Homo sapiens: one gene and its partner. The protein of the gene in region 1 purifies or fractionates together with the protein of each later gene. This does not show direct contact. Each region holds a gene or a part of one and is shown in the gene's direction. Other genes may lie near its edges.

Region 1 (5,364 bases):
TTGATGCTGTTTAGCCTTTACAGTTATTTTTGGTGCTGTGGGAGTTTTATACCCAGTCCTTGGCTTAAATCATAGTTTTCATTCTAATCCTGTTGGCATTGATAGTTTACTTTGTAATTCTGTTTCCTTATTTGGAGATAGGGAGGGTCTCACTGTGTCACCCAGGCTGGAGTGCAGTGGTGTAATCTCAGCTCATAGCAGCCTCGACGTCCCAAGCTCAGGTGATCCTCCCACCTTAGCCTCCCAAGCAGCTGGGACTACGTCACCATGTCCAGCTAGTTTTTTGTTTTGTTTTTTAAATTTTTTTGTAGAGACAGTTTTACAATGTTGCCCAGGCTAGTCTTGAACTTGGGCTCAGGTGATCCTCCCACCTCAGTCTCCCAAAGTGCTGAGATTACAGATATGAGCCACTGTGCCCTGCCTAGTTTGTAATTCTAGGGCAAAACTTGTTTTTGCAGGGCAAAATTGAATTTTATAGTAGTTATAACAGGGACTTGTGGTCTTTTGACTACTTCTTTATATACTTGCTTTTCTTGGCCATCCCCTCATTTCTCAAATTTTGGCCAACAGTTGTTAATAAAATAGTCATAATTTGAAGATTTAGGTGAGATAATTCTGCTTCTTTTAATTGCTTTGCTTTCCGTTCTTTCAGGCATTTAAAAAGCATACATGAGGGTGGAATATTTGTTCATTCACTGTAGTATTCCCAGAGCCTAGAACAGTGCCTCAGAGATGGTGCTCAATAAGTATTTGTTGAAAATGTGAATGCAATTTTTGTCTGTTTTGTGCATGTTCTGATTGCTCTTCCTTGTGTATTCAGCAAAGTTTTTTGATAGATTCTTATAACATTTGCCTGCCTTGCACTGTTGCTTTTAATACATACCTATGCTGAATGCCCTAGCTCTGTTGTAGGGTCCCCACGTCTGACACTTTTTTTTTTTTTTTTTGGAGACGGAGTTTCGCTCTTGTTGCCCAGGCTGGAGTGCAATGGTGCGATCTCTGCTCACCGCAACCTCTGCCTCCTGGGTTCAAGCGATTCTCCTGCCTCAGCCTCCTGAGTAGCTGGGATTACAGGCATGCGCCACCATGCCCGGCTAATTTTGTATTTTTAGTAGAGACGGGGTTTCTCCATGTTGGTCAGGCTGGTCTCGAACTCCTGACCTCAGGTGTTCTGCCTGCCTCGGCCTCCCAAAGTGCTGGGATTAAAGGCCTGAGCCACTGCACCCAGCCTCTGGCACTTTTTTATATACCTTACAACACCTGAGAGAGTGCCCTGGACAAAGTGGATGCTCTTAAGAATGGATGACTACTTATGGGTAATTAGAAGATTAGAAGTATGATTTGATCAGTTGGAGACCCAAGAATCTGGTTTTATATGGCAGGTTCAATATTTGTTTTACCAGATTCTTTTCTGCATCCTTGATTTTTGGGATCAGTTAGTGGTGCAGGAAACTAAAGCTTTTGGAACTCTTTAGGGAGAGACCCAGAAAGGGGCAATGTATGTTTTCCTGTCACTGTAGATGAATCGGACAAAGGGTGATGAGGAGGAGTATTGGAACAGCTCCAAGTTCAAGGCTTTTACCTTTGACGATGAAGACGATGAGCTTTCACAGGTAGGTCAACTGCTGAAGTTTGTACTCTTCTCCACAGTGCCACTATAAAATTCCTTCCTCTTGCATTCTGGGTAACTAGGCTTTTGACCATGTATGTCTTCATTAGGCTCAGAAAAGAGCCAGAAGGATTGTAAAATCCAGCTCACTGCCTTTCTTACTTTACCTTTTTAAGATGATTTATTCCTACAGGTTTTTTTTTCTTTTGAAGAACCCCAAGTCTTTTATTTATGTGATATATATTTTTTTATTTTTGAAAGATGAACTGGATTGGAAGATTTATCTTTGTTGTGTCTATTTTGCAATTGAGGAATCATTTATTTTTAGAGAGGTGAATAAATTCACTCAGGTTTACATAGCAAGTCACTGCCAGGAATATGATGAGAATTCAAAAGTGACTTTGATTCCTCCTAACTCTTTTATCACTGGACTGTAGTGTTGGCTAAAAATCAGTTTGTTTTCTTGGCAAATATGTAGTATGCTAGGCTTTCGATTGCACAGGGCGAGTGTTGGCCACCTTCAGGCCCCAATTCCTCAGCCTTCTTGATTGTCAGAAGAGAGGTGGGAAATGATGATTTGCCTGAGCACCCTAGCCTTGTGTCCCTCTGCAGTTAAAGGAGTCCAAGCGGGCGGTGAACAGCCTCCGAGACTTCGTGGATGATGATGACGATGATGACCTGGAGCGAGTCAGCTGGAGTGGGGAACCTGTGGGAAGTAAGTAGAAGAGTCCCTAGGCAGGGATAGATGTTGAGGATTCTTATCACTGATAAAGGCTCTACTTGTTTGTTTCTTCAATGCTAGTTAGGAGAGGGACTAGGATAAGACTATTTTCAGATAAGCATACATCTGGAAACTTAACTCCAGGAGAAGATACTTGGGAAATCCAGCAGGAGTTCCCACATGGCTATATAGGTCTGCTCTTCAGGGGTTGACTCTTAGCTGGCTATTTCATTCTCATTTGGGGTGCTTGTTAAAATGACATACTCCTAGGCTTTATCCCAGAGATTCTGTTCATTAGGTCTTCTGCGGAGTAGAGGGGGTCTCAAATTTTAATAAACACTGCAGGTGATTCTGATATATAGCCATATTTGGGAACTACTGACTTGACTCAGTATACTAATAACTGATTGACAGAACGGACTTCCTTACCCACCAAGTCTCACTGCTTAGCTGTATATGATACCACTTAATACTTTTTCAGAGTCCATTTGATTTTTTTTTTTTTTTTTTTTTGAGATGGAGTCTTACTCTGTTGCCTAGTCTGGAGTGCAATGGCGCGATCCTGACTCACTGCAACCTCCGCCTCCCAGGTTCAAGCGATTCTCATGCTTCAGCCTCCCTAGTAGCTGGGATTAAAGGTGCCAACCACCATGCCTGGCTAATTTTTGTATTTTTAGTAGAGATGGAGTTTTACCATGTTGGCCAGGCTGGTCTTGAACTGCTGACCTCAAGTGATCCGCCTGCCTTGGCCTCCCAAATGCTGGGATTATAGGTATGAGCCACCATCCCTGGTCCCCATCTGATTTTTAAGAAATATTTTTAATTGAAAGTTTTTAAAAAATAGGCCATACTATAATGTGACTAAAGATTAAAAAAAAAAAATTAAAGGTCTACAGTGAAAAGTTTCCGTTCCATATTGTTATGTATCTTCTCAGTTTTCAGTTCATGTCCTCCCAAAAAACAATCGTTGCTTGGTTCCTGTGTATTCATCTAAAGACTCTTTTTGCATCTGGAAAAGTATATAGAAACATGTATTCTTATCCCATTTTTACACAAGCAGTAGCATGCTTCATACCTTGCTCTTTTTATGTGTTAATATAGCTTGGAGATCTTTCCATGTCAGTATATAAAGAGTGTTCTCATTTTCTCTTTCTTTTTTTTAAATAGCAGCATAGTATTAAATTGTATGGGTTTACCATCATTTTTTAGCCAGCCCACTGTTGAATTTTAGATTTTTCAATCTTTTGCTCTTTATATTTCTATCATTGACTTTATATTCTGACCATAGATGCATAAATGAAAGAGCAATTCTTAGAGTGGAATTACTCACATAGGATGTTTGCATCTGTATTGGGTAGATATTGCCAAATTGACCTCCACAGGGGTTGTACCAATTCATACTACCACCAGCAATGGAGGAGGGTTCCAGTTTCCCTATAGCCTGGCTAACACGGTATTATCAAGCTTTTGGATCTTTCCCCATCTTATAGGGGACTAATGGTTTCTCATTATATTTTTAATTTGTAGTACTCTTAGCAAAGCTGGGGGCAGGTGGTGTGTGCCTCTGGAGGGTAGTGGCGATGGATGGCTTGAGGCCAGGAGTTGAGGCTGACGTGAGACATGACTGTTAGATATGATTGTGAATAGCCACTGTACTCCAGAGCTCCGGCAATGTAGTGAGACCCTGTCTCTAAAAAAAAAGAAAAAAAGAGAAAAAAGAGTAAGGTTGAGCATCTTTTCATATGTTGAAGAGCCATTTGAATTTTCTGTGATCCACCTATTCATGTCCTTGGTCCATTTTTCTGCTGATTAGTCTATTTGATTCTATCTTTTCTCCCTGCCCCAAGTTGGCCAAGGGACCAGGGCTTCTGGTGAAAAGCTTTTAGAGTTTATTGAATGTTGGATGTCAAGGCTTTATTGTGGATGAGAATTGCTGATGTAGTTCTTACTATCTCACAGGTATCTCATGGTCCATCAGAGAGACTGCTGGTAATAGCGGCTCAACCCACGAGGGGCGTGAACAGCTAAAGAGCCGAAACAGCTTCTCCTCCTATGCACAACTACCCAAGCCTACTTCTACCTACTCCCTGAGCAGCTTTTTTAGAGGTAAAGAGAGATGCTTAAATGGATAGGGAAGTCCTTCTCTTTTTCCAGAAAAATCTTAGGCCATAATTTTCATTTACTTTGTAAGAAAAAGATTATTGAAGGGTAAAGCATTCTCATTGGAGGTGGCAGCTGGGTGTTAGGAGCGAGATAAATGAGAGAAATTCAGAGGAGTTGGACTGGTTTTCTATAGCATGATGAATGAAATTGACATTAACCCTGTGACTGGTACTGAAAAAATTTGCCTAGATCAAAATTCCTCCCTACTCCTTGTGCATTGCTGTTGGAAAACCTTGTTGGTGGGAATGCCAAATGGTGCAGCCACCGTGGAAGACAGTATGGTGGTTTTTTAAAAAAAATTAAACAGTAAACATATAACTGGCTAGGCGTGGTGGCTCACGCCTGTAATCCCAGCACTTTTGGGAGGCTGAGGCAGGTGGATCACCTGAGGTCAAGAGTTCTAGACCAGCCTACCAATATGGTGAAACCCCGTCTCTACTAAAAATACAAAAATTAGCCGGGCATGGTGGGGGCTTCTGTAATCCCAGCTGCTCAGGAGGCTGAGGGAGGCAGATTGCTAGAACCTGGGAGGCAAAGGTTGTAGTGAACCGAGATTGCACTACTGCAGTCTAGCCTGGGTGACAGAGCAAAACTCCATCTCAATAAATAAATAAATAACATATGATCTAGCAATTTTACTTCTGGGTATATCTCAAAAAGAATGGAAAGCAGGTACTTGAACATATATTTGTACCTCCATGTTGATAGTAGCATTATTCACAATAGCCAAAAGATGGAAACAACCCAAATGTCCATTGATGGATGAATGGATAAACAAAATGTGCCATATACATGCAGCGGAATGTTACTCAGCATTAAAGAAGAACGACATTCCCATACATGCTGCCATATGGATGATCCTTGAGGATGT
Region 2 (3,500 bases), on another chromosome or scaffold:
TCCTGTATGAGAAGAAGGGGCTCCACGAGAAAGGTGTGGGAGTGGTTCCTTGGATCTGGGAGGGGCTCTTGTACATGGCAGGGGAAACCCACTGAGATATGGAAATCTCCCGTGGGGAAAAGGCTCATGACCTTGTTCTTGGGCTTGGTGGCCAGCTCTGCAGGTGCTCGTGGACCAGTCCAAGAAAGCCAACTCCCCTCTGAAAGGCCACGAGAGGACAGTGCAGTATCTGCAGCATCTGGGTAAGTCCGCCTTTTGAAAGGGGTGGGAAAGCGCTCCTGTTCAAATGACCTGGTCTCCCTCTGTTTCTGTTTCTGGTTGGTTGCTCCCCTCCCTCCCGTGCTCGTGTTCACTCAATTTCATTCCTCCAAATGGCATAAAAGTCCCTCGGTGGTTGGCCTGTGACAGCCCCCTGGTATGGAGCCAGCCCAGTAGGGCTAACAACCCCAAGTGGCTCATGCTTGAGCTGTCTTTTCAGGAAAATGAATTCTGGGGCAACCTGCCCACCTGCCTTCCCAGTGCCACAGGCAAGATGGGCCTCAACTGCTGACAAGTCCTGCTTTTCCTTCTAGGCACAGAAAACCTGCATTTGATTTTCTCCTACTCAGTGTGGGTGCTGAGAGACTTCCCAGAAGATGGCCTGAAGGTGAGCCACAGGAGTCCCTTGGATTTATCTGGTAAACACTTGGTTCTGATTGCACTTGAGACAGCAGTGGATGGAGAGGAGGGTGGATTCATGCATCTGTCTTCATTGGTGCATGAAGAAAGGGTGGACTGGGAAGCGCGAGCCAGCACTGTAGTTGGTAGAGAGAGCCTTACACAGGCATGAGGAGGCCTGTGCCTCGTCTGACATGCTGACTGCCTACAGATGCCTTCTCGTACCCTTGCCCTCCTAAAGTCTGTTTGATCCCTGCGCTCACATGCGTGTGTGTTTGCTGGAACTGCAGTCAGATGGTTCTGCTGCTGGAACTCGGGTTCATTCTAACAGATATTTACTGAAGATCTCCCGGAAGTGGAGTCTCTGCCACGTGATCGAGTCCTCGGCTTCTTAATAGAGAATTTTAAGGGTCTGGCTATTCCTTATCTGGTAAGGTATTTTTTGGTCTGCACTAAAAAGCTTTAAACCCAGGATCCAGGACTGCGTGGTTCTGTTATCGGGCTGTTCAGATTTGGGATTTATGTCACTTGGGGATTGGAAGGATGAGGGTTATTTCAGCTTCCTCTGAAGAAAAAGATCCCAGTAGACCAAGCTGGAAATGCTACCTACCAAATCTAGGTAAACTACAGAGGGATAAAAGAATAATGTTTTAGAAAAAAAAATTCCAAAGCCACATTTGGAAAAAAAATTCCAAAGCGAAACTCAAAAGTGACCACAGGACAATCAAATAGGCTTAAGTACCAGGATGCAGATATTTAACCACAATTACATGAGTCGCTATGAGAGTTTGGAGGATTATGGGACAAAATTAGTAAAATGGAGTTTAGTAATTGAGAAGATGGCTCCTCACGTTACTGGGTCGCATTGTGAAACTTCCTGGTGGCTTTAGACGAGCTGTCTCTTAGTCATCTTTGCAGCCCGATTAGGGGATAATCTGGATGGGACCTGTTGGGCCTTAAAAATGTGAGGGAGGCTGGGAGACCAGGTCACAGCCTGGAGAATACCAGTGACAAAGACCTACATCTTGCCTCAGGAACACATCATCCATGTTTGGGAGGAGACAGGCTCTCGGTTCCACAACTGCCTGATCCAGCTATACTGTGAGAAGGTGCAAGGTCTGATGAAGGAGTATCTCCTGTCCTTCCCTGCAGGTACCAGTTCTTTTAGGAAGCCGGTTGGCCCCAGGCCTTAGAGGAGAGCACAGACCCAGGTGCCACGTGTGGTGGGGGTAAGCAGGCCACCCTATTCTCTGCCCAGGTGCGCAGAAGTTCTGAAGAGGAGCCAGGGGAGCTAAGTGACACAAGCCTGGCACATGAGACTCAGGAGCTCTTGTCTAGGTCCTGGCATCTCTGAGTGTCTCAGAGTCATCCCTCGGGGAGGGTGGAAGGAACAGACCTGTCTGCAAGATGACAGCTATACTGATAAGAAACAGGTTTGCCCACAGAGTATTTCTCTATTCAGCTTATTTTTTTAACCGTAAGCTGATGTTTTGGGGCCACATGGAGACTATGAACTAAAAGAAGTTAGCATGGAAGCCACCCTGGAGGCCCTTTCTGGTCATGTGGTGACATCCTTGAACCCCATTCCCTTCATTTTTCTTGATGACCCTACATTGCCACCTGGCAGTGTCCTTTCATTTTGAGCTTGGTTTCCCTTAAAGGCAAAACCCCAGTCCCAGCTGGAGAGGAAGAGGGTGAGCTGGGAGAATACCGGCAAAAGCTCCTCATGTTCTTGGAGATTTCCAGCTACTATGATCCAGGCCGGCTCATCTGTGATTTTCCCTTTGATGGTGAGTGTCTGGCTTAGGGCCAGAAGCCACTTCAGCGAAGGTCATGCAAAGACTAATCCACCCCTTTAATTGTTCCCCAACTCTCCACAAAAGTTGGGCCTGGAAAAACCAGGCATTTCAGGCCAGTGCTCCTGTTTTGTCCTCTCTGAAGACTCACTTTTGTACCGTGACTGAGAAAAGTCTCCTTCCTGGGTATGAACCACATGCTAATTGATAGCCAGGTTGCAACCTGTTTTTTGCTTCAGAACATGTTCTTGGCCAAGTTCATTGTTCAGCAGTTTTTGTAATCTGGCATAATTTGTCTTTATGAGAGCTGAGAGCAAGCATTTGCTCATCTTACCTGAACCACCTAGCATGTTGTAGGTGGTTGTTAAGTACTTGGCTGCTGAATGAATATTCTTACCCAGTTTATATGTGACCTCAAAAAAGATGGGATAAAGTACTTCCTAAAATAGCTCCCTCCCCCTTTTTTAAACTTCAGTTATTTTCTCCTTGAAGAAAAACCCAAGCAATAAGAATCCTATTGTCTTCCCTTTATATTGCCTCGTGTCCACTCCTCTGACAGCATAGCCCCCACCTTGTGCTTGCGTGATGGCGGCAGTGGTTCCTCATATTCCTTTTCCTCCTAGGCCTCTTAGAAGAACGAGCTCTCCTGTTGGGGCGCATGGGGAAACATGAACAAGCTCTTTTCATTTATGTCCACATCTTGAAGGATACAAGGATGGCTGAGGAGTAAGTTTGCCCCAACATCCCACCTCCTAAGCAGTCTAAAAGCAGGCCCTGCAGAGAGATGAGAGTTAAGAAGGCCATCTCCCCATACTCCACTGCGGGAGCAAGAATCGCCTCCGTCCTGGCCCGCAGTTTTGGCTGTGGTTAGGCTGCTCGAGCAGGCTGCACGCACAGCCTCTCATTTAGATGTGCCCCCCTCACACCACCTGCTCTCACCACTCTCTCCCTTGCAGGTACTGCCACAAACACTATGACCGAAACAAAGATGGCAACAAAGATGTGAGTAGTGACCCTGACCCAGGGAGCACGTGTGCATACCTCTCC

What was found.
Region 2: the proteins of VIPAS39 (region 1) and VPS39 fractionate together in Homo sapiens (co-fractionation; one large-scale study listed by BioGRID). This does not show direct contact.

What each region holds. Positions count from the first base shown.
Region 1 is NC_000014.9:77,450,259-77,455,622, reverse strand, and holds part of VIPAS39 (spermatogenesis-defective protein 39 homolog), read left to right. Parts: intron 1-1,520; coding exon 1,521-1,613; intron 1,614-2,221; coding exon 2,222-2,324; intron 2,325-4,289; coding exon 4,290-4,436; intron 4,437-5,364.
Region 2 is NC_000015.10:42,163,305-42,166,804, reverse strand, and holds part of VPS39 (vam6/Vps39-like protein), read left to right. Parts: coding exon 1-33; intron 34-155; coding exon 156-242; intron 243-572; coding exon 573-646; intron 647-988; coding exon 989-1,087; intron 1,088-1,691; coding exon 1,692-1,809; intron 1,810-1,915; coding exon of another isoform or gene 1,916-1,932; exon of another isoform or gene 1,933-2,086; intron 2,087-2,318; coding exon 2,319-2,447; intron 2,448-3,076; coding exon 3,077-3,179; intron 3,180-3,409; coding exon 3,410-3,455; intron 3,456-3,500. UniProt on the Homo sapiens protein: Regulator of TGF-beta/activin signaling, inhibiting SMAD3- and activating SMAD2-dependent transcription.